7 linked regions of the Homo sapiens genome follow. The protein of the gene in region 6 purifies or fractionates together with the protein of the main gene of each other region. This does not show direct contact. Each region holds a gene or a part of one and is shown on either strand. Other genes may lie near its edges. The genes, in order: ALB, RANGAP1, SFXN3, ATAD3A, PHGDH, ASXL1 and RCC2.

Evidence for each region.
Region 1: the proteins of ASXL1 (region 6) and ALB purify together in Homo sapiens (affinity purification with mass spectrometry, with the first as the bait; one study listed by BioGRID). This does not show direct contact.
Region 2: the proteins of ASXL1 (region 6) and RANGAP1 purify together in Homo sapiens (affinity purification with mass spectrometry, with the first as the bait; one study listed by BioGRID). This does not show direct contact.
Region 3: the proteins of ASXL1 (region 6) and SFXN3 purify together in Homo sapiens (affinity purification with mass spectrometry, with the first as the bait; one large-scale study listed by BioGRID). This does not show direct contact.
Region 4: the proteins of ASXL1 (region 6) and ATAD3A purify together in Homo sapiens (affinity purification with mass spectrometry, with the first as the bait; 2 studies listed by BioGRID). This does not show direct contact.
Region 5: the proteins of ASXL1 (region 6) and PHGDH purify together in Homo sapiens (affinity purification with mass spectrometry, with the first as the bait; 2 studies listed by BioGRID). This does not show direct contact.
Region 7: the proteins of ASXL1 (region 6) and RCC2 purify together in Homo sapiens (affinity purification with mass spectrometry, with the first as the bait; one study listed by BioGRID). This does not show direct contact.

Annotation. Positions count from the first base shown.
Region 1 is NC_000004.12:73,417,787-73,421,286, reverse strand, and holds part of ALB (albumin preproprotein), read right to left. Parts: intron 3,200-3,500; coding exon 2,976-3,199; intron 1,781-2,975; coding exon 1,648-1,780; intron 1,034-1,647; coding exon 989-1,033; 3' UTR 966-988; intron 196-965; 3' UTR 1-195. UniProt on the Homo sapiens protein: Binds water, Ca(2+), Na(+), K(+), fatty acids, hormones, bilirubin and drugs. Its main function is the regulation of the colloidal osmotic pressure of blood. Major zinc transporter in plasma, typically binds about 80% of all plasma zinc.
Region 2 is NC_000022.11:41,255,188-41,258,687, reverse strand, and holds part of RANGAP1 (ran GTPase-activating protein 1), read left to right. Parts: intron 1-581; coding exon 582-740; intron 741-1,863; coding exon 1,864-1,977; intron 1,978-2,397; coding exon 2,398-2,497; intron 2,498-2,582; coding exon 2,583-2,667; intron 2,668-3,500. UniProt on the Homo sapiens protein: GTPase activator for RAN. Converts cytoplasmic GTP-bound RAN to GDP-bound RAN, which is essential for RAN-mediated nuclear import and export. Mediates dissociation of cargo from nuclear export complexes containing XPO1, RAN and RANBP2 after nuclear export.
Region 3 is NC_000010.11:101,029,927-101,034,033, forward strand, and holds the start of SFXN3 (sideroflexin-3), read left to right. Parts: upstream 1-1,307; 5' UTR 1,308-1,608; exon of another isoform or gene 1,609-2,016; intron 2,017-2,387; 5' UTR 2,388-2,547; coding exon of another isoform or gene 2,548-2,556; intron 2,557-4,107. Other genes in the region: PDZD7 (PDZ domain-containing protein 7), read right to left, coding at 68-293. UniProt on the Homo sapiens protein: Mitochondrial serine transporter that mediates transport of serine into mitochondria, an important step of the one-carbon metabolism pathway.
Region 4 is NC_000001.11:1,518,662-1,522,161, forward strand, and holds part of ATAD3A (ATPase family AAA domain-containing protein 3A), read left to right. Parts: intron 1-259; coding exon 260-329; intron 330-1,479; coding exon 1,480-1,645; intron 1,646-1,886; coding exon 1,887-1,956; intron 1,957-3,500. UniProt on the Homo sapiens protein: Essential for mitochondrial network organization, mitochondrial metabolism and cell growth at organism and cellular level. May play an important role in mitochondrial protein synthesis. May also participate in mitochondrial DNA replication.
Region 5 is NC_000001.11:119,718,434-119,721,933, forward strand, and holds part of PHGDH (D-3-phosphoglycerate dehydrogenase), read left to right. Parts: intron 1-1,444; exon of another isoform or gene 1,445-1,459; coding exon of another isoform or gene 1,460-1,486; intron 1,487-2,736; coding exon 2,737-2,888; intron 2,889-3,500. UniProt on the Homo sapiens protein: Catalyzes the reversible oxidation of 3-phospho-D-glycerate to 3-phosphonooxypyruvate, the first step of the phosphorylated L-serine biosynthesis pathway.
Region 6 is NC_000020.11:32,356,946-32,361,130, reverse strand, and holds the start of ASXL1 (polycomb group protein ASXL1), read right to left. Parts: upstream 2,801-4,185; 5' UTR 2,356-2,800; coding exon 2,299-2,355; intron 2,146-2,298; exon of another isoform or gene 2,118-2,145; coding exon of another isoform or gene 1,894-2,117; exon of another isoform or gene 1,824-1,893; coding exon of another isoform or gene 1,797-1,823; exon of another isoform or gene 1,280-1,796; intron 422-1,279; coding exon of another isoform or gene 325-421; intron 1-324.
Region 7 is NC_000001.11:17,433,178-17,436,677, forward strand, and holds part of RCC2 (protein RCC2), read right to left. Parts: intron 1-3,500. UniProt on the Homo sapiens protein: Multifunctional protein that may affect its functions by regulating the activity of small GTPases, such as RAC1 and RALA. Required for normal progress through the cell cycle, both during interphase and during mitosis.

The sequences.
Region 1 (3,500 bases), on a different chromosome or scaffold from region 6:
TTTGAAAAATAACAGTGCTGTACCACTCTATTAGATTCTTTCCATTTTTTATTAATTGAAGCACAGAGAAAAGAGGCAAAATGATTAAAGAAATTTATGTTTTTTAGACAGGGTGTTGGCTTTACACCAACGAAAAAGAAAAACAGATGAATAAGCTTTTGATCTTCATTTTCTTTCTCTTATTCTCATGGTAGGCTGAAAAACAAAAGGACAAATATAAGTCTTATTTGTAAAATGGCATGTGTTTTTCAAACCTATTAAAATAAATGCCAAATTACTTAGATCATCTTTCTGCAATTTACACCAGTGAAAACAATTTAAGCCTGTCCTAGACTTACGGCTGCTGAATTCTTCTGTTGGGCTAGGCAAGGGGACACACCAATAAATGTTGTCATAAGAAGATAAGTCCTATTAAAGCTCAGCATGTTGACAAATTGGAAATGTAATAGCAGATTCTTCACTATAAAGTTCACAGAAGGTAGATCCATCATATTCTCCAATGGAAAGGATGAGTTGAACTATTAGGTTGAACCATGTGAAATCACTGATATTCAACTGTTTTTGCCCTATAAAGCACTCTTTCATGTGGTTCAGCCTAATTCCCAGAGTATTCCACTGCTGAGCCATCACTTACTTGGATGGCTCTGTGTACCGCATCATATAAGTCAGAACAGGACAATGGGCAACACTGAAACTTTGGTTTCAATTTTGAATTTTGACCCTTTGGAAAATTACTTAATCTATGCTTTGATGTTTATCTTCATTTTCTCATCTACAAAATAGAAATAATAGTGGTTCCCAACTCAGCAACTATTTTGAGAATTTTAAAAGCTAATATTTACATACATAAATAGTTTAGAATAGTGGTCGGTGCTGGTCTATATGGCTCTTGGAAATGGTCAATCTTTGCTATTTTAATAATAACTATTATAGTTACTTTTTTAAAAAATTCAAAATATAGTTACCTGAGATGCTTTTAAATGTGATGTTATAAGCCTAAGGCAGCTTGACTTGCAGCAACAAGTTTTTTACCCTGAACACAAAGACATGACAGATGTTAGGAAAATATTAGCATTACTATTAGGATACAAAATTAACATTTATGAAGCTATTGATGATTGCAAAGTGATTTCACGTGCATCATATCCTTTAATTACAATTTACTACTATAATCTCTGGACGGAAGCTCACGGACATAGTTGTCCCCAAATGAATAAAAAAAAGTTACTGTCAGGCCATAAAGGGCAATTTTAAGTGATTTAGACATTTGAATGTAAATTCTCCCACTAGCCTATAAAATCAACTAAATCACAAACCACCACATTTCAAGTAAATGTTTAAATAAATTAATGTTTTGATTTCATGATCAAAATATTTCAGGCCTTACAAATATTCCTATTAATATTCATAAGCATCACAAATTTGGAAACAGAACAGGCATTATAAACATTTAACAGTATGGCACAATAGAGCAGGAGATAAAAACAAAGTGCTGTTTTATTCATTTTGTAAGACAATTGTTTGTAAAATAAGATCCCTGTCCCACATGTACAAAGCCTCCTTTGATATATAAATCCCTAAGCCCTAGCCTAACCAAACATGCAAAAATGAATACTGGACATATTAAAATGAAGAGAACTGTAGTACCTCCTCGGCAAAGCAGGTCTCCTTATCGTCAGCCTTGCAGCACTTCTCTACAAAAGCTGCGAAATCATCCATAACAGCTTTCAGTTGCTCTTTTGTTGCCTTGGGCTTGTGTTTCACGAGCTCAACAAGTGCACTGAGTTTGAATGGAAAAAGAAAAAAAAAAAACAGAAAAAACATTACTCACGTATAGAAAAATGGAGAGAGTAAGGATGGTAGTCCCATCATTTAAGATTATAAATCTTGGAGCCAGGCAACTCTGAGTACTTTGGGGCTCAGGCATACCGCTATAAGTCTCAATATTCTCATCTGCATGATGAGGATAATAAAATCCACTTTCATGGAGTTGGTGGGAAGACCAACTGAAACAATCAGTATAAACCACTCATCACGTTATGTAGTGTCAACAAATTTCTTTTCAGTAAATCTCTGAAAAGAAGTATGTCATTGCAATTATATATTATTCAGATTTTGGAAGTGCCATATTATGTCATATTGAGTTTTATTGCTATTAAAGAGCTAAAAATGATCCTTAAAAATTTAATTATCTTGGACTTTATTTAAAATTTTTCTCATCTATAAAGATGAGAAACTTTATATTTGGTTCTTAAACTTTGCTCCCTTCAAAGCTAATAGTGGGGAGGCTATAGAAAATAAGGCTATCCAAACTCATGGGAGCTGCTGGTTCTCTTTCACTGACATCTGCAAAGACAACAATGCCAGGGAGAGATTTGTGTGGGCATGACAGGTTTTGCAATATTACTCTTAAGCCTAGACGATGATTACAGCCCACAAGAGATGACAGCAACTTTCTATAGCTAAATTTTATGCAATTATAACCCCTGTGATAGCAATAGGGAGTTGAGCTTCAGGGCTTGCATTTCTACATGTTTTTTATCCAAGTCTCATTCTCAAAAGTCACATCTTGGGGGTTTGTCTCATGTGTGGGGCCACCATAGGGCAAACTTAAAATAATTATTTACATCTAGAAATAAATTCTCCTATGGTTCCCATTAACTAATTTGCCATGTGCACAAATTTATCAGTTAATTGTTCATCTTTTTCTACTGAATATGGCCTAACATGTTATTCTATTGTGGCTTTAATCCACAATATTACTCTGAATAATTTTAGCAATATTATAACAGAGGATTTTGTCTTTAAAAAGTTATTCATTTTATTCTGGGTACTCTTATCAGCATAATAAGGGCAACACTCCAATACTTTCCTCTAAGAAATATAATCACTACTTCAGGAAAAAGTTGCTAGCTTGAATTGACAGTTCTTGCTATCAAGACTACAAACACATGCAGTAATGAAATACTCCTCACGTTTGTTTCTTGATTTGTCTCTCCTTCTCAGAAAGTGTGCATATATCTGCATGGAAGGTGAATGTTTCAGCATTAAACTCTTTGGGAACGTATGTTTCATCGACTTCCAGAGCTGAAAAGCATGGTCGCCTGTTCACCAAGGATTCTGTGCAGCATTTGGTGACTCTGTCACTTACTGGCGTTTTCTCATGCAACACACATAACTGGTTCAGGACCACGGATAGCTAAAGAACAGGCAGGAGAGCAGAAATTCAAAAGAGGTGAAGCTGAAAATTTTCTACTAAAAATACAAAAAATTAGCCAGGCATGGTGGCATGCACCTGTAGTCCCAGCTACTTGGGAGGCTGAGGCAGGAGAATGGCTTGAACCTGGGAGGCGGAGGTTGCAGTGAGCCGAGATGGCACCACTGCACTCCAGCCTGGACAACAAAGCGAGACTCCGTCTCAAAAAAAAAAAAAAAATTATCATCCTCGGGGCCTTGACTGCCAATATCACACATACACACACGTGCATGCACACACACAT
Region 2 (3,500 bases), on a different chromosome or scaffold from region 6:
ACGAGACTCCGTCTCAAAAAAGGAAAAAAAAAGAAAAAAGAAAAAGAAAATAAGGAGGCAGAGAGAATGGGTATCAAAAGGCCAGGCTGTGATAGGGCTGCATGGGCCAGGGAACACCCTCCTCATCCCTAGAGAAGGACGCCATGTCGAAGGGGTTATGTTGTGTAGGTGGGTGGGCTAGGAGGGCCCCTAAGAAAGAAAGGTCACATGGAGCTATGTCATCCAGAGAAGGGGCATGAGTGCCTGCCCACCACAGCCAGGGTCCCCACTGTGCTGAGGACACCAGACTGAGAACAAGAAATCGACCTGCTGGATCTAGAGCTCTGTGACCCTGGGCAAGTCACTTCGCCTCTTTGATCCCTAGTCTTTTCTCTGGTGGGGATCCTATCCCAGGCAGTAGGCCTCCCTCAGGAGGTTGTGGAAAGAGTTAGATGCAGCCATGCCCCAAAATCCCACAGACAGGCCCCTGCCCTGTGCTGGCGGCAGCCCATTCCTGTGCCTGCTGTGTGGAATTGCTCTCCTGCCTGCTGGATGTCACCTGGCACTCGGGGCCCCCTCCACTCTCTGCCTCCTCTTCACAGGTCATCGGGACCCTGGAGGAGGTCCACATGCCACAGAATGGGATCAACCACCCTGGCATCACTGCCCTGGCCCAGGCTTTCGCTGTCAACCCCCTGCTGCGGGTCATCAACCTGAATGACAACACCTTCACTGAGAAGGGCGCCGTGGCCATGGCCGAGGTGAGGCGAGTGTGGCAGAGCCAGTTGGGCCCCGCCAGATAGAGGCTGGCTGCTGTCTTTCCAGGGAAGCTGGGGCTCCGTTTAGCAGGGACTCCTCTACCCCCTGCCTGCCCCCTGGGTGTGTGCCCCATGGCTCCAGCTCTTTGAACATGTCCTGAACAGGGTTGCAGGTCCCAAGGTAACCCACGCCCTCCTCGGGCAGCTCTGATTCTTCATGCCACCTTCTCCTGAGCCGCCTCTGCAGCCCCCAGCGGCTGCCGCTGGTTTGTTCTCAGGCTGCACAGGAGCAGACTGCTCCCCACATCTGTTTTCCTGGTTGATTTGTTCAGCAGCTGTTGTTTGTTTTGTTATTTATTATCACTTTTTGAGACGGAATCTTACTGTTGCCCAAGCTGGTCTTGAACTTCTGGGATCAAGTGATCCTCCCACCTCAGCCTTCTGAGTAGCTGGGATTACAGGTGCAGGCCACTGTGCCTGGCCCAGCAGCTGTTTTTTGAGTCCCCATTTAGTGCTTGGCTTTGTACCAAGTGCAGGCCACATGGGGTTGAGCCAAAGACCCCGCCTTCAGGGAGACCCTAGCTCAAGGAGGGAAGGAAGCTGCCAGTGGTAACAGTGCTGGGCTCTGAACGCAGTGGCTTCTTGGCTGCCAGGGTCCCGTGGCCCCACAGAAGGCTAGTCCGGCTGCCTGTGTGTTAGCAGAGATGTGTGCAGGTGTTGGGGAACACGCCAGAAGGAAGTTCAAATCAGACTTAGGGCAGGCTTCCTGGAAGAGATCACATTTTGGCTAAGTTGTATAGGGCAAGTGGTCTTTCTCTGGACAGAGGGTGGGGGATGGGTGTTTCAGGCAGAGGGATCAGCTTACGTGTGGAAGACCCGGATGCTCAGCAGGAACCTTGCTTGGTTGGTCTCAGGAAGAGTTCTGGCCGTAACATGGGGAGGGGTGGAGGAGGTTTGGCCAGGGGCCCAGAGGCCAACAAGTAGAAGACGGCAAAGCTGGTGACTTGCAGAGGAGGACAGTGTGTGGTGGCTGGCTTGGGATGTGACCGTGTGGGGCCCCCGGGGCTTGCTGAGGGCTGGGGTGTGGTCTGCACCCTCACTCTGGACCCTTGCTTCCCCCTCACAGACCTTGAAGACCTTGCGGCAGGTGGAGGTGATTAATTTTGGGGACTGCCTGGTGCGCTCCAAGGGTGCAGTTGCCATTGCAGATGCCATCCGCGGCGGCCTGCCCAAGCTAAAGGTGCCAGCCTGGACGCCTGACGTCCTCCCTCTGGGGTCTGTGGGTGGTGGGGCGGCTGGGGGCACAGGGGTCTGGTCTGAAGGCAGGTGGGCCTGTGTCCATATCCCAGCTCCTCCACTTCGGGCCCTGTGATGCTGTGTGAGCCTCCACACCCCTCTGAGCCATGGTTTCTTCATTTCTAAAGCGGGAGGCAGGGAGTGGTGTACATCACTGTCTTGTGATTTAAGTAAACACAGTACGTGACTCATCGTTGGCTGCAGGGCATTATTTTTGTTGTTGGTGTTATTCTTCCTGCCCACTTTGCCCCACCTGGAGGACAGAGCCTGCCATATCCTCACTTGGGGAAACTGAGGCTTAGAGTAGAACCTGGTGTCCTGGCCCGGGTTTCTGCCTGCCTCCAACCCTTCCTCTTATTTTCAGGAGCTGAACTTGTCATTCTGTGAAATCAAGAGGGATGCTGCCCTGGCTGTTGCTGAGGCCATGGCAGACAAAGCTGAGCTGGAGAAGCTGGACCTGAATGGTAGTCGGATGGGGGAGGCCTCTGCACAGGTCTGCTAGGCTGGCCCTGGCACCCCGGCTGACTGCTCTTCCCTCCCCTTGAGCAGGCAACACCCTGGGAGAAGAAGGCTGTGAACAGCTTCAGGAGGTGCTGGAGGGCTTCAACATGGCCAAGGTGCTGGCGTCCCTCAGGTAGGGAACTCGGGGTGGCCCCAGAGGTCGGGGTCAGGCCATTCCTTTCTTTCTTTCTTTTGTTCTTGAGATGGAGTCTTGCTCTGTTCCCCAGGCTAAAGTACAGTGGCGTGATCTCGGCTCACTGCAGCTTCCACCTCCTGGGTTCAAGTGATTCCCCTGCCTCAGCCTCCCAAGTAGCTGGGATTACAGGCACCCACCACCACACCTGGCCCCTTTATTTGTTTCTACTTGTATTTATTCAGAAACGTTGGGTGCACTCCTGTTACGTACTAGGTCATACACTAGGCATCAGGGCTATAAGGATGGGACAGTCAGGGCTTCTGTCTCGTGGGGTGGAGACAGAATGAGTTGTCCGTTCAACAGAGGAGCTCGTACGGGCTGAGCGGGGCCACCCTGTAGAGTGGTGGAGTTGGGGAGGCCTCTGAAGGGGTGAGGCCAGATCTCATCCTGATGTGGTGGGGCCTGGGGAGTGATGGGGGTGGGAGGTGGGGGCAGCCAGAAGGGGCTGCACTCGGGATTGTTCTTAAGACGCTGACTCTAGAAAGGAAGAGACCATGGGGCCTGGGGAGTCTACCTGGAGGTGAAGGTGGGTGGCCGGGGAGTGGCCATCTCCTGGATCCAAGTCCGGTTGGGCCATCAGCATCGGGCTCCCTGTGCCCCTCGCATCTCCAAGTCGGCCTCATTCGTGTGTCAGATACTCAGTCGTGTCTCCTCGGTGCTAGGCCCTGAGCTGAGGCTAGGAACTGGGGACTCCGAGGTGGGCTGAACCTCACAGGTCCCACTGTCCCTGGGAAATGGTCCAGCCTTCCTATGGGGCAAGGACACCCCTA
Region 3 (4,107 bases), on a different chromosome or scaffold from region 6:
CTGAGTTCCCATTGTCCCCTACCCCCACCCTCCCCAACCCAGGCCAGTGGCTGGGTCCCGCCCCTACCTTCGATGGGGGAGTTGATGAGGATGACGCGTCCCATGGGCGATGAGGCTCGGATTCCGCGGGGGGGCCCGTTCAGCAGCCGTTGTTGCTTCCTTAGCAGGTATCGCGTTGCGGTGGAGCCTGAGTCGCTGCCTAGGTGGCCTCGGGAGGAGAGGGAGCTCAGAGAGCCGGAGCTCAGGTCTCCTAGGCCCAGTGGGTCGAAGCCCACTGCGAAACCCTGCGCCATGGCGGCTGGGCTAGGGCGGCACCCTACAGGTCCAGAAGGAATCTGCTAGCTCTGGAGAGGCCAGCCCTGCGTGCTTCGAGCTCCATGAGCCTCTGTGCGGGGCTGGGGTCTCAGTAACGTGAAGGCCCTCGCTTGCGATGCCTCTCAGAAGTGTGAGCTCCAGGCCTGGGCAGGGAGAGCAGGGATGAGGGAGGGGTGTAAATGTTTCCCCTGCTGCCCCCTAAAACTTCCACCCCTCCCCCTGGTTTAAGCATCCTGCCCTCCCATGCCTTAGGCCCCCCTCCTGTCTCACCCTAGGCCAGAGAACTGCCCCGTCCAGGCACCATCTTGGACTCTCGCTGACTTTATACAAGGCAGGTGGGAACCTTTCACCCCTCATTCCTGCTCGGGGCTGAGTCATCTACTCCCGTCCCCAGTCCTCAGTAGAGGTTGAGAGTGGAGTTGGGATTACTGCGGGCCCTGGGGCTTAGAGAGGTGTGAGACAAAAGAGAGGTCAGGACAGCTCATGGCATCACCTCTCTCATGCATATGCGGGCATGGAGGTGGCCCGGGGTGGGGCGGGGGCTGCGTGGGGCGGGCTGGGCCTCGAGGATAGGGCTTCAGGACCTTAGACAGCTGAGGCCCAGGAAGACCCCCAGACACCCGCGGGCTCCAGGCTGCGGCTCCGGGTCTAAAGAGGCTGCATGAACCTCTCCCAAGCTTTGGGGAGGATCTGCTGGAGAGGGGTCCCACGACATCCCGCGCAAAACCCAGGGCCAGTTCCCTCAGAGAAGCTCTGGGACCTAGAATGAAGCACCCCAACATCAACTCGGCCCTCCAGGCCCCCCACCCCTTTGTGCCTGGTCGGCCTCACCTGGTCGCTGGTGTGGCGCCGCCAGCCTTGTCAAACCACCCGCAGGCGAGAGCTACTGCCGCAGCCGGCAAACCCCACCCACGCTGCGCGGAGGCTGCGGGAATTGGGCTGGCCTGCACCGCCCCGGGCTCCCATTGGCTGGTAGGGCCGCCAGTCATTCTATTCCGGCACCTCCCTTAGGCGCCAGGGACAGCCGAGCGTTACCTGGTCCCGGGCAGCGGAGTTCTTTACCCACCCCAGTTCTGGTTCTGACGCCCTAGCTCATTCCGCAAATTTAGGGCTTGGGTCTGGCTTGTTCCCCTCCGGCTCGAACCACCTCTTCTCTGAGCCGAGCCAGCTACCGGGGCTCCTGGAATTGCCACCCCTCCCTGGGCACCCTTGAGGCCTCCGTGGAGGGACGTCACGGGGCAGAGCGGGACGTGAGCCTGAGTTTGCTGCAGGCGTGCTCTGTGTGGTGGCTGGGTGAGTTGTGAGTATGTGCGTGGCGGAGGGGGTGCCTTCTTCACTTGCATCCTCCTCCTCTGTCAGAAGGCGTCTCTGGCTACCCAGTTCTGGAATGGTCGCAGGGTGGGGCAGCTGGTCCCAGGACCGGAAGAATCCTAAGAATCCTTCTGATGCACTTGCTCGGATGCAGACCGCGAGGTTCCTGGGGTCGTCTGCCCCTCCACATCTCAGGGGTGGGGCTACGGTCTGGGGTGCAGGGCTAGGGGTTGGGAGCGTAAGGAGACCAGGGACACAGTGGAGCTAGGGGTTACAGAGGGGGAGCAGGGAGAGGGCTGGGGACATAGAAGAGGCACAGGCACGACAGGAACGGGGCTGTGAAGTGATGCGAATGCCGCGCTGCTACAAGAGGAGCTTGTGGATACTGGGGTAGGAGCCCAGGGGGACAAGCAAGCCAAAGGCCATTGCCAAGGCAGCCATCAAGTAAACAAGCCAGGCGGTAACCCGAGTCCCTCCCGGCGCGCCAGCAGAGGACCGCCCCTCCACACCGCCCACCTGCGCCCGGGGCTTTCTCTCTGGGCACCTAGACCGCTTGCTGCAGGGCTGGGGGTCTGCTGAGGCCCGCCAGGGGACTGTAAACCAAGGGAGCAGCGCCCGCGGCTCCAGCCCCTCCTCCCTTTGGCTGGGGAGGGGGCCAGAACTGATCCCCGAGGTGGGATTGGCTCTGGGAAGCAGCTTAGGGCCTGGTCCAGGTGGCCCAGGCTGGGGGCATCGCCTCGAATGACACCCACCGCCCTCAGGTTCTGCCAATCCCCGTGCCCACCGGGTGGGCGCGGCCGGGAAGCTCCTGCCCCTCCCTGCTGGTCGGCGTCACGCGTGACGTCCCGCGTGATGGCTGGGAGGGCCCGGCGGCGACAGCGGAGGCAGAGAGGAAGGCGGTTCTGAGAGCTTCAGAGAGCGATGGAAAGCGTAAGTGCTCGCTCTCCCCGGCGGGCGGGGTTCTGGAATGGGGGTCAGAGAAGGAGGCCTGCCTTGAAACTGTCTGTCCTGGTGCAGTCAATGTCCTCGGCTCTGTGGAGGTCCAAGTCCACAGGGCACAAGGGAGGTTGGGGGGAGGAATGTCAGGGTGGGGCTGTGTGTAGTCACACATTCAAGTGTCTGCAGATGGGCACAGTGTGCGCCTGTAAAGGTGTTTGAAGGCCGGTGTATACAGGACACCTCCACTCTGTCTGTATGTCTGGGCAGGGTGTGCATGATAGTGTCTTTGTGTGTGGGTATGTGAGTGTGAGGGGAGGGCGTCTCTGCCTCTGCGGGAGGAAGTGTGGCTGGAGAGGATTAGTCATTCTGTAGGATTCTGCCCAACTCAGCCAGATGGCTGCACCAGGCTTTCCTCTCTGTGCTGGGTGGAGGGAGCAGCCACTGAATCCTGCTCTTATCCGGAGGCAAGTGGCCCAGAGAGAGGTGGATGAGTGTCTGTGCCAGCCCTGCCTGGCCAGGGACCAGGGAGAGCCTGGGGTCATTCAGTGTGAGTTGGAGAAAAATGGGTCTGTAGAGAGGACTTGTGCGTGCCCACATGCACACACATGGCTGACATCAGAGTCCCCTGATTGAGATCTGGAACAGATAAGCCCTGGGTGGCCAGTAAGGCCTTGCTCTCCTCCAATCAGGGACTGGAGTGTGGGATGTCTTGTGCCATTTTCCAAAACAGCCTTGGGGGTTTGTATCCAGGTCTCAGTGCAGCTGGGGCCTAAAGCTCACCTGAGCATGGGTGTGTAATATATATATTATATATTCTTGTGCATCTGTAGCACACGTGGCTGGGATGTTTGTTGCTGCTTATGTGTCAACCACATATATGTAAATCCTCACTCATGAAAATCTGTACCAGGATAGAGCACAAGGAGATCTGTTTTCCTGTTTCTGGTCTTCCCTTCCCCCTCCTCCAGTGGCTGCAGGTCCCTGGGCTGGGACATTGCCCAGGAAACAGCTCCTCCCCACACCCTTGCTTACCTACCTAGTTGAAGGGGTGGCCTGCCCCTCCACACCTGTGGGTATTTCTAGTAGGGTGGGACAAGAGACTGAGAAAAGAAATAAGACACAGAGACAAAGTATAGAGAAACAACAGTGGGCCCAGGGGACCGGCGTTCAGCATACCAAGGATCTGCACCGGCACCGGTCTCTGAGTTCCCTCAGTTTTTATTGATTATTATTTTCATTATTTCAGCAAAAAGGAATGTAGTAGTAGAGCAGGTTGATAATAAGGAGAAGGTCAGCAAAAAACATGTGAGCAAAAGAATCTATGTCATAATTAGGTTCAAGGGAAGGTACTATGCCTAGATGTGCATGTAAGCCAGATTTATGTTTCTCTCCACCCAAACATCTCAGCGGAGTAAAGAATAACAAGGCAGCATTACTGCAAACATATCTCACCTCCCACCATAGGGCGGTTTTTCTCCTATCTCAGAATTGAACAAATGTGCAATCGCGTTTTATATGGAGACATTCAGTTCCCAGGGGCAA
Region 4 (3,500 bases), on a different chromosome or scaffold from region 6:
CGGGTACACACACACACACACACACACACCCAAACGGGTGCACAACCCACCCACACATGGGCACAATCACCCCCACACACATGGGCACAGTCACCCGCCTGCACATTCGGGCACCGTCACCCCCCGCAAACGGGCACCGTCACACCCCGCAAACGGGCACACTCACCCCCCTGCACACTCGGGCACAGTCATCCCCCGCACACATGGGCACAGTCACAGGTTTTAAAGGCTTTTCTCTTTTTCTGCGGCTTCTTCTCAGCAACTTCTCAATGAGGAGAATTTACGGAAGCAGGAGGAGTCCGTGCAGAAGCAGGAAGCCATGCGGCGAGGTAGGCTGTCTGCTCTCCTGGCTGGGGCGGAGGTGGCGGGGGCTGCTTGTGGACCCGGCGTGCACTCTGAGCCTGAGTTCTGCCGCCCGGCCCCTCATAGCTACCAGTGCAGTGGGCGAGGCCTGCTGGGGCTCCGCGGGGTGGGGCTGCCTCTCGGAAGACACCTCTGTCTGCGAGTGGACGCCAGGATCTGTTCAGGGAGGGCAGGAGCTGCTTCACTTCATGGGAAGTACAGGGGCCTTTTTTTTTTTTTTGAGACGGAGTCTCGCTCTGTCACCCAGGCAGGAGTGCAATAGCACGATCTCAGCTCACTGCAACCTCTGCCTCCCAGGTTTAAGCAATTCTCCTGCCTCAGCCTCCCGAGTAGCTGGGATTATAGGCTCCCGCCACCACGCCCAGCTAATTTTTTTGTATCTTCAGTAGAGAAAGGGTTTCACTGTGTTGGCCAGGCTGGTCTTGAACTTCTTGATCTCATTATCCGCCTGCCTTGGCCTTCCACAGTGCTGGGATTACAGGCGTGAGCCTCTGCGTTCTGCCTAGAACATGGGTCTTTACTGTCCTGGTTTCAGTGGGGATCACAGGTATTTGGTGCCATGTGGCATTTGTTGGCGAGTGCTCCAGGCAAACGTCTGTCACCACTCTTCACCGTGGGTGGGCTTGTGGCGAGGTGTGTGCGTTTAATGTTCAGTAGCCAGGCACGTGGCACGTCACGCGTGTCTGAGTTCTGACAGCTGTGTTTCTGTGTGAGGGGGGCTTCCTTCAGAACTCCGCGTTCTGGTTTTTTGCTTCAAAGAGCTCGTCCTGAGAAGTTGCCTAGGCCTCTGGGTCGGATTTCTGCCCTAATCCATGGGCAGGGCCGGCCTGTGGCGCTGTCCCTACCAAGGTCTGTGTGTGTCTGTGGCATGGACCTGTCCGTGGCCTTAGCCTATTGGCGGCGTGGGCCTGTCTGTGGCGTGGGCCTGTCCGTGGCCTTAGCCTGTCAGCAGTGTGGGCCTGTCCATGGCGTGGGCCGGTCCGTGGCATGGGCCTGTCTGTGGCGTTGGTCTGTCCGTGGCGTGGGCCGGTCCGTGGCGTGGGCCGGTCCACAGTGTGGGTGGAGGTGGACGCGCTGCACTGCATGGTGCTGAGCTGCCCTGCCTCTCTGGGGCAGCCACCGTGGAGCGGGAGATGGAGCTGCGGCACAAGAATGAGATGCTGCGAGTGGAGGCCGAGGCCCGGGCGCGCGCCAAGGCCGAGCGGGAGAATGCAGACATCATCCGCGAGCAGATCCGCCTGAAGGCGGCCGAGCACCGTCAGACCGTCTTGGAGTCCATCAGGTGAGCACTGCCGAGGCCCGGGCCGGCCACAGATGGAGCCCCGCAGGTGTGAGTCGCTGGTCCCAGGGCGCTCTCCAGCTCTTCCAGGCCTTGCCGCCGTAGGCTGACTCCTTGGTGGGGGCACTGCCCCTCTGTCCTGGCAAGGCCGTGCCGCCATGTCAGGGCCTCACCCTCAACCTGCTCTCGCTGCGTGGCACGGATCTTCGTGTCCTTCCTGGTCACACCACTGCTTTCCCCGCAGGACGGCTGGCACCTTGTTTGGGGAAGGATTCCGTGCCTTTGTGACAGACTGGGACAAAGTGACAGCCACGGTAAACATACTCATAAAACAGGGCTGGCAGGTGGCTGAGGGGCAGCATGTGGGGGCCTCCTGGAGCCCCAGGTCCTGTCCCTGCCGGCTCTGCACAGCCCTGTAGCTCTCCCAGCAGGGAGGAAGCCCACGTTGTACCTGCTGGCCTCGGCTTCTCCTCCCTTCTCAAGCTGGGAGAAGAAAACGCAGTTGCCAGCCTGGGCCACACAGTGAGACCCCATCTCTACAAAAAATCAAATATTAGCTGGGTGTGGTGGCAGCCCCTGTGGTCCCACTACTCAAGAGGCTGAGGTAGGAGGATCACTTAAGCCCAGGGAGGTTGCAGCTGCACTGAGCTGAGATCGCAGCACTGCACTCCATCCTGGGCGACAAAGTCCTTGTCTCAAGAAAAAAATTGTCGATAGTCGTGGCTCACACCTGTAATCCCAGCACTTTGGGAGGCAGAGGCAGAGGCGGGCGGATCACGATATCGGGATCGAGACCATCCTGGCTAACACGGTGAAACCCCGTCTCTACTAAAAAAATACAAAAAATTAGCCGGGCGCAGTGGCGGGCGCCTATAGTCCCAGCTACTCAAGAGGCTGAGGCAGGAGAATCACCTGAACCCGGGAGGCGGAGCTTGCAGTGAGTCGAGATCACGCTACTGCACTCCAGCCTGGGCCACATAGTGAGGCTTCTTCTCAAAAAAAAAAAAAAAAAAAAAAAAAAAAAAACCAGAAGGCAACCCTGACTCCATTTTGCAAAAACCTTCTTTATTCCTTATAAAACCCTGAGAGTTTGAAGTTCACAGATTCTTCTCTCGTTTAAAGCCTCACTCTTTTGTGCCCAGCCTCCGGCCTGCTGTGGTGGCGCCCCACGTCCCACATGGCTGTGTCCTCCGTCCCCACCCCGCCCAGCACACGGTAGGTGCCCGGCACTGAGTGGGCACTTGCTCTGCCGTGGTGCCGGCGCCCAGAGCTGTGACTGCAGCGCCTGCCGGTGGCCTGGTCAGTGTGACGGTGAATGTTGCAGGTGGTGTTGCCACCATGTTGGTGAGACCGTGTCACGTGAGGACATGACGGAGCTGCTTAATGCGCCGATGACTTTTGTTTGTTTGTTTTTAGAGACAGGGTCTTGCTCTGTGGTCAGACTGGAGTGCAATGGTGCCATCTCGGCTCACTGCAACCTCCACCTCCCCAGTTCAAGCAGTTCTCCTGCCTCAGCCTCCCAAGTGACTGGGATTACAGGCTCACGTCACCACACTCAGCTAATATAGGCCTGTGCCACCAGGCCCGGCCAATTTTTGTATTTTTAGTAGAGATGGGTTTTCACCATGTTGGCCAGGCTGGTCACGAACTTCTGACCTTAAGTGATCCAGCCGTCTTGGCCTCCCAAAGTGCTGGGATTACACGGGTGAGCCACCGGGCCTGGCCTAATTCATTTTTTGTTTGTTTGTTTTTTGAGACAGAGTTTTGCTCTTGTTGCATAGGCTGGAGTGTAGTGGCGCGGGTCCAGCTCATTGCAACCTTTGCCTTCCGGGTTCAAGAGATTCTCCTGCCTCAGCCT
Region 5 (3,500 bases), on a different chromosome or scaffold from region 6:
TCCAAGGGATTTTACAGTTTGGTTTTTGCACCTAACTGGCCATGGCCTTGGCTCTGGCCCTATCTTCTTGACATCTTGGCAGGTCTACCAACTCTTCTTCAGTTACAGTCTCAGAGTTAGCCAGTGGCAATGACTTTCCAGTTCTTGGCTGGTTTTTGATCTGTAAGAGTGACCTTGGGCAGGTTACCTCTCAAAGCCTCTGTTTCTTTATCTGGAAACTGGGGATGATTATACCCCTTCTCCTTGGAGTTGTGAAGAGAATAATGTAAAGCAACTGGTGTAATGCCTAGTACCCAGCAGGTGCTCAATAAATGGTTTATGTGCTGGTGAGGCTGGTACTATGGATATATGGTATAGAGTAGATAAAGTTTTAATATAAAATCCCTGCATTAGGCATAGAAAATATAACTAAGGAGACCAAAACTGCAGGTCTAAGAGAGGACAACTAGATATGAAACATATTATATTGGTGATCACAACAAAAATGGTGGGGTGTAGGGAGAGTGACAGTTCAGGGTTGTTGGCAAATGTTTCCTGGAAGATAACTTTATTGCACCTTGAAAAGTCAGTAAAGTGTGTCCAGGCAGGGAAATCCTTTTCTTTGGAGCCTGTGTGGTGGACTTGAATGTGGAAAAGATGCCAGTATCCTGTTTCTGCCTGGCTTGGCTGATATTTAACTAGGCTGCTATGGGGGGAAATCAGAATACCTCCAGGTGCTCACCTGGTGTTGGCCTCAGCACTGGGGCAGTCAGCACTGAGGTGGCTTCTGTTTGATTCCTCTAAGCCCTGGGTGCCCATGTGACTTGTATACACCCAGGTCATAATCAGTTTAGCATAATGCCAGATACGTACATAGCGGGCATCCGATAAAATGAAGGAAGAAAAGTACAGGGGAGGGGAAGGGAAAGTAGGCAGGCTTAACTTTGTTGGGCTTCAGTTTTTCCTCTGTAAAATGGAGTTGGACCAGATGCTGGTGAACATTTCTTCAAATCTCCCACTCTGACGTTCTGCTTCAGAACCTCAGACATAAAAGGATTTGGAGTGTCTTCCAGGCCGCCTGCATGTTTCTCTCTGCTGGTAGGCACAGCCCCCAAGCAGTGAGGATGTGTGATGCATAAACACCTCCAGAGGAATCGTTCTACTATTGCTCTTGAACAATTCTTCCAGTGTTTAGAAGCTCTTAAGGCTTAAATATTCTATGCTGCAGCCTAAGCATCATTCCTCTTCTCTTCTTAGTGGAGATAAAATTACCCACTGCTCTCCTTACATTTACTTTGTCCATATTTGCTCCTATGCTCTAGGCTCGTGCACAACAAACACAGTGTGGGCCCTTACCCTAGAAGCCAACTTCTCATGACCTTTCTCTATCTCCAGAATCCATGCAGTGGGAATGAAGGTAAAAGAAGGTTTTCATGGGATCCAGCTGAGAGCTCTACGGGGAAAATGGATCTGAGGAGCCATGTGCTCCATCTCTTTTATTTTACAGGTAGAGACTAGGGGTATAGAGTGAGGTGAATTACCGCAGTGACCCACACATTGTTGGCAGACCTAGGATTAGAACTCTGTCTTCCTGGTTCCCAGCTTGGTGCTTTTGAAAGCATACTTGCTGCTTTCTTACCGGCCTGGTGTCTGCCACTTTGGGACAGAGTGTGGACTTGCTCACCTGCCCCATTTCTTAGGGATTCTCATTCTGTGTTTGAGCAAGAATATTCTTATTCTGGAAAGAACCACATACCACAGGATTCTGGGTGAGCATAAGGAAGATTGTCTTGGGGATCTGACTTAGCTCACGTATAGTGGCTATGATGAATTCAGTGTCTTATTTTTTGCATATGTATATTTTTAGTCTAATATTGCCTGGGTGTCTGAGCAAGTCTAGATGAATTTAATTGCTCTCATTTTTCCCCTGCCCCTCTTCCTTTGGTCTCTCTTTTAGGAAATGTTTTTCTTTCAACATTCGTTTCATTCATTATTTACTCATTCGGCCAACCAACATTTATTGAGTGCCTTCCCTGTATCAGGGACAGGGGCTTACAAAGTAGAATTTGATCCCACCTCTGCCCTCAGTAGCTCAGTGTCTAATGGAGGTAGTGATGTTCATTAAGCGTCGCCAGATACTGTGCTAGGTGCTGTGCCTGTTCTCTCTCGCTTGTTCCTCACACACTTGAGAAGGCCGAAGCTGATTCATAGCTTGGAAGGCAGGGGCCTTGGATTTGAACCCAGGCCTGACCAATGGCAGAACCTATCAGATGTGTGGACAGATGACATTGCCTTTCTTTCTTTGGATATATCAAAATCAGCCAGCAGGCAGGAACTCCCATTTTGAGCAAGCAATGTGCAGGAATGATAGGGTATACAGAGAGGAACAGGAGATGGCCCCTGACTTCCAGCATGTGTCTGATGGACATCCAGGCTGCAGGCATCATGGTGCTGTCTAGAGAGATGAGCCAGGTGCCCAGAGCCCATGGGCCAATGCTGCCCTTTCTTGAGCATGCCAAACAAAGCGGTTGGTGTGTTAGAGGCACAGTCTCCTCCACTCTAAGTAAAAATCAGCATGAGTCCTAGCCCACATTTCCCTAGTGAGTATACCAAAGATATCTATGAACTGGCAGTCATCAGTGACTTCCTAAGGTTCCGGAAATGCATCTCTTACTCAGGAGTAAGCAATGATGTGCCTGCGGCTTTACGAGTTCTCACAGAATGACTTTCTGGACCCAAATGTTTTTTCTGCTTCAGGACTGTGAAGGCCTTATTGTTCGCTCTGCCACCAAGGTGACCGCTGATGTCATCAACGCAGCTGAGAAACTCCAGGTGGTGGGCAGGGCTGGCACAGGTGTGGACAATGTGGATCTGGAGGCCGCAACAAGGAAGGGCATCTTGGTTATGAAGTAAGTCATGGAGGCTGCGGGCGGTTTGGGGGTAGGGGGGTGAGTGCGGAGACTGACCACACCTAGGGAGAAAAAACTCACTTGAGAGAAAGCTGAGTCCATTGGAAGGGCTTCCAGGAGGATGCCTGGTCTAGGGCCTGCATGGTCAACACACACAGCATAGTGGTTTCAAGGTTTTTGGAAGGCAGCTATGCTCACCACTATATCACCAATGCCATCAGGGTGTTACACAGTTTTTGAAATTGAGAGTCCCTGCATAATCTCAAAATGTTTCACGAGCCCACCCCATGCGCAGTTGCTTGCACCTCTGTGACCTGGTTCAGGAATCGGAAGGTCAGTGAGTTCATCTGCATTTCCTGCTCCCACCCAGCCCCCTCTGCCTCTATTAATGCTGTTTGTGGCAGGTTTTTGTCAGCTCTACTTTACTGTGCTTGTACAGAGGCACAACCTTTGCTAGCAGACTAATGACTAGAATCCTTGCCCTCCCCACTTCCCTGCCACCTTCTGGAACTAAGACACTAGTTTCTCTTTCAGTGCTCTAGGGCAAGAGGAGAAGGGTCCCATTTAAAGCTGTTTCTGCAGAAACACAGGGGCAGAGGTCATCAGCACGCC
Region 6 (4,185 bases):
GTGATTATTCCACCTCAGACTCCCAAAGTCTCGCAAATCCTTTTTCACATGTATAACAGCACCACAAAGTAATTCCTACTCATAGGCTGGGCGCGGTGGCTCACGCCTGTAATCCCAGCACTTTGGGAGGCCAAGGTGGGCGGATAACCTAAGGTCACGAGTTCGAGACCAGCCTGACCAGCATGGAAAAACCCCATCTTTACTAAAAATAAAAAATTAGCCGGGTGTGGTGGCAAACAAACGAAAAACAAACAAACAAAGTAATTCCTATTCATATTACTATTTTTAATGAAGAGCCTTAGAAGAAAAAGAGGAATAACTTACCCTGATAACCTGGCTTGAAGTTGAGTCAATGATAAAACAGAAATAGCAACCTCGATGTTGAAGTTCAGACCACGGTAAATTCGAGAATCTAAAGAGACTTAACAGTGGACCCCAAATTCCTAAAGTCAACTAGTAAGAGCCAACAGAACTTTGAGACAAACAGATTTCATAATTCTGTCAAGACATAAATAACACAAGACTTAAAAGTACTTTCACCTACCTCTAACAAGTAAAACTCTGGCAAGCAAATTTCCTTGGGTGCCCAGGGTCATAAACACCCGCATAACAGGAACGCCAAGGAGAATGTCAATGAACACACAAAACTCATTGTCGAGGAGGAGAACGAGAGCTCTCTCCCACTCCCCATCAGGCCTATATTTGTTTCCAGGTGCAGAACCGTTAGAGAAATCCTGAAATTTCTACAAGATCCTGAAAACTAGCCCAAGCTTCCAATTTTGACTCAATCAGAAAAAAAATATTTCGGAACCTCAAAATCTTCAAACTTCACATGCCAGGCCAAAATAAACTGAAGCACAAAACTTCAGCATACAAACAATTGCTATTTTTGTTCCCTGGGCAACAAATGACTAGGGAAGAGGATAGCAAGCACCAATGAAAATTCTGTAGCCCAAATTCCTTCAGTTTTTATAAATCTGTAACTTTTACAGACTTCGAGAAAGAAAAAGGTGTACTTCAGGTTTGTGTCAACCCCCCCAATACAGTCTATTTTTTTTTTTTTTGCACAACACCTTTGAAGCAGAAAACTCACTTCAAAATAAGAGAGAAAATTAAGTCTGAGCTTCACTCATCATTAAAACTGAATTACAACCATTACATATAAACTACAGTGTCAAGAGACACTTATGCTATCCGCACCACAACCTCGCTGTGTGACAGATCTTAGGAACTGACATCTTAGTATAACCTGTTACTACTGGTATCAGCAGATAATTACCCGAATATGTCTCAAAGTGTCTGAGCTTTGTGGGAGTAATCCAAAAGGAAGCTATTTCACCTGCAAGTCCTCTGACGCTCTGAACACAAAATTCACAACCCCCATCGGTTGAACGAGACGGCTTCAAACACTCAAGTTACGCTCTCCCTTGCTAAATCCTCAGTGAACAACGTCTCCCAACAGAGATACTTTGTCTTTGTCCAACATACATTCTTTGCAAAGTGGATTCAGTTCTCCTCAAAATACCAATTTCCAGTCCAGCTTCTGAAGGCAAACAGCCCAGTCTGCGTTTCTCAAAGTGGGGTCCGTGAGCCACTGCGTTTGAATCACCTGGGAAGCTGGTGAAAGCGCAGATTCCCAGGCTCTATCCCAGACCCTGAGGCTCAGCAGGTCTTACGAAGGGCCCTAGGAGTAGCGTTCCTAACCGCCTCCCAGGTGTCGCCCACAGGACACTAAAGTTAGAGAACCGCTGCTCAGGGTTCAAGCTGGGAGTAAGCACTTGCTTCCCTCCACGCACCTGGTTTAGATTGGGAAAGCTCAACATGCCATTGGCGTCCTTGAATGTGGGGTCGCTTTTCCACCCCCGGAGTCAAAGGCACCACCCCATTACCCACCAGGAAGCGAGGGAGGAGCTTCCGACCCTTCCCGGAAACCCAACTCCCCCGGGTGAATGAACGAAGCTGCCCCAGACCCCCAGACGCTGCCAAATAGTGGGGGAGGGGACGCGGGACCCCGCTGCCCAGAGTGGGAGGAGCCGGCCTGCCAGCTCGCCCCTCCGCCGGAATTTAGCTGCGCGGGGCGGGGGGGGCGCGAGGGCGAGCGGAAAAAGGCGCCACATCCCATCCCGGCGGAGCGCTCCCCACCCCTCGCCTTGCGGGGCTGTCCCGTTCTTAAAGGAAGATGGCCCCGCCCCCTCCCGCGGTGGGCAGGGCCTTGCCCCTCCCCCCCCAGTGGGGGGGTGCGCGGCGAGCCCCCCCCACCCCGGGCCCCACGGAGCCCCCCTCGGCTGTCCGCCTCACCAGGCGCGCGGCCTCGGCCCACGTGCGCTCCTTCTTCTTCTTCTGTTTGTCCTTCATCCTTCTCCCCGGCGGCGGCGGCAGCTCCACGCGGGACCTCCGGGCTGGGCGGGCTGGGGCGGTGGCGCGGGGCTGGGGCGGCGGCGGCGGTGGGGGGGGCGCGTGGCAGCGGCGGCGCGCGAGGTCTCGGGTGCGGCCGGGGAGAAGGGGCGGGCACGCGGGGACCGGCTGGCGCGAGAGCGGCGGTGGGGGAGGGGCGGCGGCGGCTCCACGCGCCCGCGCTGCGTCAGTCGCCCACGGCGGCAGCGGCGGCTGCCCCGCGATCGCTAAGGAATGCGGCGGCTCCGCATAACCACGGGGTCAGAGGTCACGGCTCCGGCCTCCGCTTTCCCGCTCTGCTGAGGGACTGAGACAGGACCGACGGCGGGGCGGGAGGGCGAGACGCGGCTTTCCCTTCGGCGCCCGGGTGCGTGCGTGTCTGCCGTGGGTGTGTGTGAGTGTGTGTGAAGAGTGAGGAGGGGGAGTGTGGGGTTTTTTTTTTTTGAACAAAAACAAACCGAAAGGGCGCCTGGGAGTCGTAGTCCCAACGGCCTCTCTGGCCTCCCCCGCTCCGGAAGAATATGGCCGCGTGAAGCGCGTGGACCACACTTCCCGGCGTGCCCGGCGGCCCCCTTCCGCTCTCCCTCTCGCGTCCTCCGCCTAGCACCGACCTCAGCTAGGAACGGGGACGGGTCGCTGTTCGGGGAAGGGGCTGGGTGGAGTCTCGCGAGGTGCGAGAACTGGCTGGGGGCCTGCGGGATTCTGGGAGGCGATGCTGGGAAGGGGCGGTGGCTGGGCTCCCCCGGCCACCCTTAACCCCTTCGGTGCTTTTTGCTTCAGGACCTCCTGGCGGGTGCGGGTGGGGAGTGAGGATGGGGAGCTCGACTCGCAGTTCCCACTTCGTGCTTCTCCTCGCCTAAACGGTTCTTACCTACACTTCTCGTAGGGGACGAGAGGCAGGACTTTCCCTTTTGGTCACCTCTAAATGACTCACTGCCACATAATAATGAGACAAAAAGACCCTCATACCAGTAAAACGGTTATTCCACGGCTGATGGACTTAGACGGTTCTTCATTTCTTCCTGTGCTTTCAGGCCGCTGTGTATTTGCAGAGCCTGCACCAGCAGCCTAGAGCGTTCTTAGGAACTTGGTGATATGTTGACGGGTCGTGTAAAGAACTTGGACTCTGGGGCCATACTGACCAGAATGCACCTGAGGGCGTTTTTAGAGGCAGTACCCTGGAGAGAATTCAGGCCCTGGAGTCCAGCGGACCTAGACTGGAATCTTGGCTGAGTCACTCCCTGGCTGTCCACTCAACCTCTCTGAGCCTCAGTTTTCTGATCTGCATTTGTCTTGTATTTCATGGCATTATTGGAATTAAAATTAACATACAATTCTTGACAGATTGGAAGAGGATGTGAAGGGAGATCTTGACATTATCAGGTCCGTATGATATGGCGCCTGGCATAGAGCAAATGTTTAATAAATGGTAGCTGTTATTACCAGCTGAGAAACAATAGGCAATATACTTAGCCTCTCTGAGCCTTAGTTTTAGAACCTGAAATGAAATTCAGAGCGCCCAGCACATAGGTTTTCTGTAACTATAGGTTCAGTCGTTGTCCAGAAACATTTCTAGAGTCCGTCCGGAGTTGGATTGATGCCAGCTCTTAAAAACTATGAAGGCAGGATCAGTGGCCACATTTAAACGGTTTCCCTGGGTGAGGAAACACACTCTCCACTCCCTAATGTTAACACGTAGCGAGAGCCAGTATTGATAGGAGACCATTATGGTGTAGCCCAAACTCTAACGCCAAGGGGTTCAGTGTTTTCTGCTTCTAATACTGGTCACAG
Region 7 (3,500 bases), on a different chromosome or scaffold from region 6:
TTTCCTCACACATTAGATGGAGGTTAGTGTATTTCGTTATTATTTACATAATTGTTTGCTCTAAGCTGCTTTCTTTTATTTCTCTATAACTTCTTTCCTCTGCCTTATGTGGAATTAACATTTAAATAGAGTAACAGAGAACTCCCAGCACCCCTTCTCACTTAAGGGGTGCTCCTCTTCCTCAGAGACCAGAAACAGCCAATCGTGGGAGAGACTCCCGCGCTTGCGGGCTCCACCCGGGGCGGCGGGGCAGGGCGGGGGTGCCAGTGGGTGTGTGGGTGTCTGAAGCTCAGTGTGCCCTCCCAGGCGGAATCCAGCCTTCCCTGATGGGCCTACGGATTGTTTTTTTGGACGAACTCAGTGTCTGCGACCCTGCTTGTGTATAAAGGCCACGCAGCAGACAGCCTGGCAAACAGTCTGCCCAATGAGATGAGTGATTTTCATGTCATTTCACCTGGCTGCCTCCAGCAACTTGGTCACATAACCTGGGCAGAGACACACAGAAATGGACAGAAAAGGCACTGAGCTTCTTCAATCAACAAAATGGGATTTCTAGTCTAAAGCAATTTTTGAATTATGATCCAAATGCAAGGTGCGCGTTTACGGGGCCCAGAGTCAACCTTTTAACATAGGTCCATGTAGAAGACCGCTGCTCCGGGGAGGTAAGACCCCCGGGAACAATGCCGGCATCGACCAATTACCTAAGGGCCATCAACTGAAACAGACTTCCGGGTTGGCTTTCAGTTTTATTTATTTGCTCCTTTCAGATTCAACACATCTGTCTCAGGGTCCACAAAACCTTGGCAACCCAAGACTGGAAAAACTACAAAGACCTGGGCAGCTTGCAACACTCACCTGTTTTGTAGGATCTGGCCAAGGCTGCTGCCTTTACTTGCTTTAGGAGGTTATGAAGTGCGCAAAGAATTAGGACTGAATCTACCCTAGTGTGACACTGCCATCAATATTTGGAGTTCCTGGCATGCAACTTCCCAAATCCTTGGAATCTCCAAAGCAATGTCTTTTTGTATGCTAATGACTGACACTGGCAGCCCCCAGGCAGCTTCCGGATGGGGCAGTGGGAGCCTAGGGACTTTCAGCCCCATCCTCCAACCTCAGGAGGGAGATGACTGAAGGTTAAAGTGATGATCAATGGCTTAATCTACCATGCCTACATAATGAAGCCTCCGTTAAAAACCTGTAAGGACCAGGTCACAGAGCTTGTGGAGAGCTGAACATGTACCAGGTGGGTGGTCTGCAGAGGGCACGGAAACACAGTGCCCCTTCTGCCACATCTAGCCTTACAGGTCTCTTTATCCATAGCCTTTGTAATATCCTTTATAATAAACTGGTGTTTCCCTGAGTTCTGTGAGCCATTCCAATAAATTAATCGACCCCAAAGAGGGGGTCATGAGAACCCCAACTAGAGGCTAGTTGGTCAGAAGCTACCAGGGACTGGACTTGCAACTGGTGTCTGGGGTGGAAGGACAGTCTTGGGGACTGAGCCCTCAAGATGAGGAAATCTACCTCCAGGTGGATAGTGTCAAGAGATGAACTGGAGGACACCCAGCCGGTGTGTGCTGCAGAACTGATTGCTTGCTTGATAGCAGGGGGAGACCTCCCTTTACGTCTAGTCACAGAAGTCTTGTGTTGGGAGGCGGGGCGTGGTGGCTCACGCCTGTAATCGCAGCACTTTGGGAGGCGGGCAAATCACGAGGTCAGGAGTTCAAGACAGCCTGGCCAACATGGTGAAACCCCATCTCTACTGAAAATACAAAAATTACCGAGCACAGTGACAGGTGCCTGTCATCTCAGCTACTCAGGAGGCTGAGGCAGGAGAGTTGCTTGAACCCAGGAGGTGGAGGCTGCAGTGAGCTGAGATCACACCACTGCACTCCAGCCTGGGAGACAGAGCAAGACTCCATCTGGGGTGGGGGGTGCGGAAGAAGTCTGGTGTTGGTTGTTGAGTGTGGCCGTGAGAGCGGAGGAAAAAAGAATTTGAATTTTTTCTTAACACCTAGGCAATGACAACGCTCATCTGCCATAAGAATGTTCTATAAAATGCACATCTTTTACTCAAGGCAATTCTGCCCCTCAACAATGTAAGTATTTGGCTCATCTTCTACAAGCCCGACACCTGCAGCTTTGGGGTCACTGAAGGCAATATGGTTTTGGACATTTCCTGGGCGGCTGCTTTCACACAGACCTCCTCCTAGCAACCCTGAGCGGGGCAAGGCATGCAAAATGCTCAGTAAAAAAGGTTCTTTCTGCAACAAGGACTGCTGTCTGCCTGTGGCAGCACACAGGGTCCCTAGGACTGCTCAACAGAGAAACAGAGACCAGAAACCTGGGGCCAGGGAGACTGGGCAGGAGGCCAACCCAGGACAAGGGGCAGAGGGCTGCCCTAGGCCTATGGAAAGGCAATGGGGCTGCATGGACCCAGCCCCGAACATGGACCAAACTCAGTAGATGCTAACAAAACTTAAACGTGGGGCACTTTGGGAGGCCAAGGTGGGTGGACCACCTGAGATCAGGAGTTCGAGACCAGCCTGGCCAACGTGGTGAAACCCCGTCTCTACTAAAAATACAAAAAATTAGCCAGGTGTGGTGGTGGGCGTCTATAATCCCAGCTACTCGGGAGGCTGAGGCAGAAGAATTGCTTGAACCCGGGAGGCGGAGATTGCAGTGAGCTGAGATCGCAACATTGCACTCCAACCTGGGCAACAACAGCTAAACTCCAGCTCAAAAAAAAAAAAAAAAAAGCAAAACTTAAATGTAGGGTGTGCACTTTCCATGAGGCATAAAGGGGCATCATATGCTGAACCCTCAGCCTCCCAGGTGCTCTGATTCTAGAACAGCACCGACAGCCCAAAGGATGGGCATCATGGGCCCCTGTTGGTTTTAAGTGGATAGAGAAAGGAAGATGTAGCTTTTAGAGTCCTGCTTATACACATATGTAAAATAATAACGTATTTATGTGTATAAACAGGAACTTAAAAGCTGCAATGGACTGCTGTTTACTCACATTAAGACTTACAAACATGCAACCCAACACAGGGCTCGCGCCTGTCATCCCAGCACTTTGGAAGGAGGCTGAGGCAGGCAGATCACTTGAGGCCAGCAGTTTGAGACCAGCCTGGCCAACATGGTAAAACCCAGCCTCTACAAAAAGTACAAAAATTATTCGGGTGTGGTGGAACACACTTGTAATCCCAGCTGCTCGAGAGGCTGATCAGCACACAAAAATCACTTGAACCTGAGAGGCGGAGGTTGCAGTGAGCTGAGATCGTGCCACTGCACTCCAGCCTGGCCATAGAGGGAGACTCTGCCTCAAAAAAAAAAGACTAACAAATGTGCCATTTCCATTGACAAAGCAGCTTCAAGCAGCACAGCTGGAGACAGAGGTGGGCCAGGGAGAGCCAGTGTCCCTCACACACTCCCTGTCTCTACCTCCTTGGGTCAATCTCAGCATGGGGTAAGGATCTTTTGCTCTGATGGCAAAA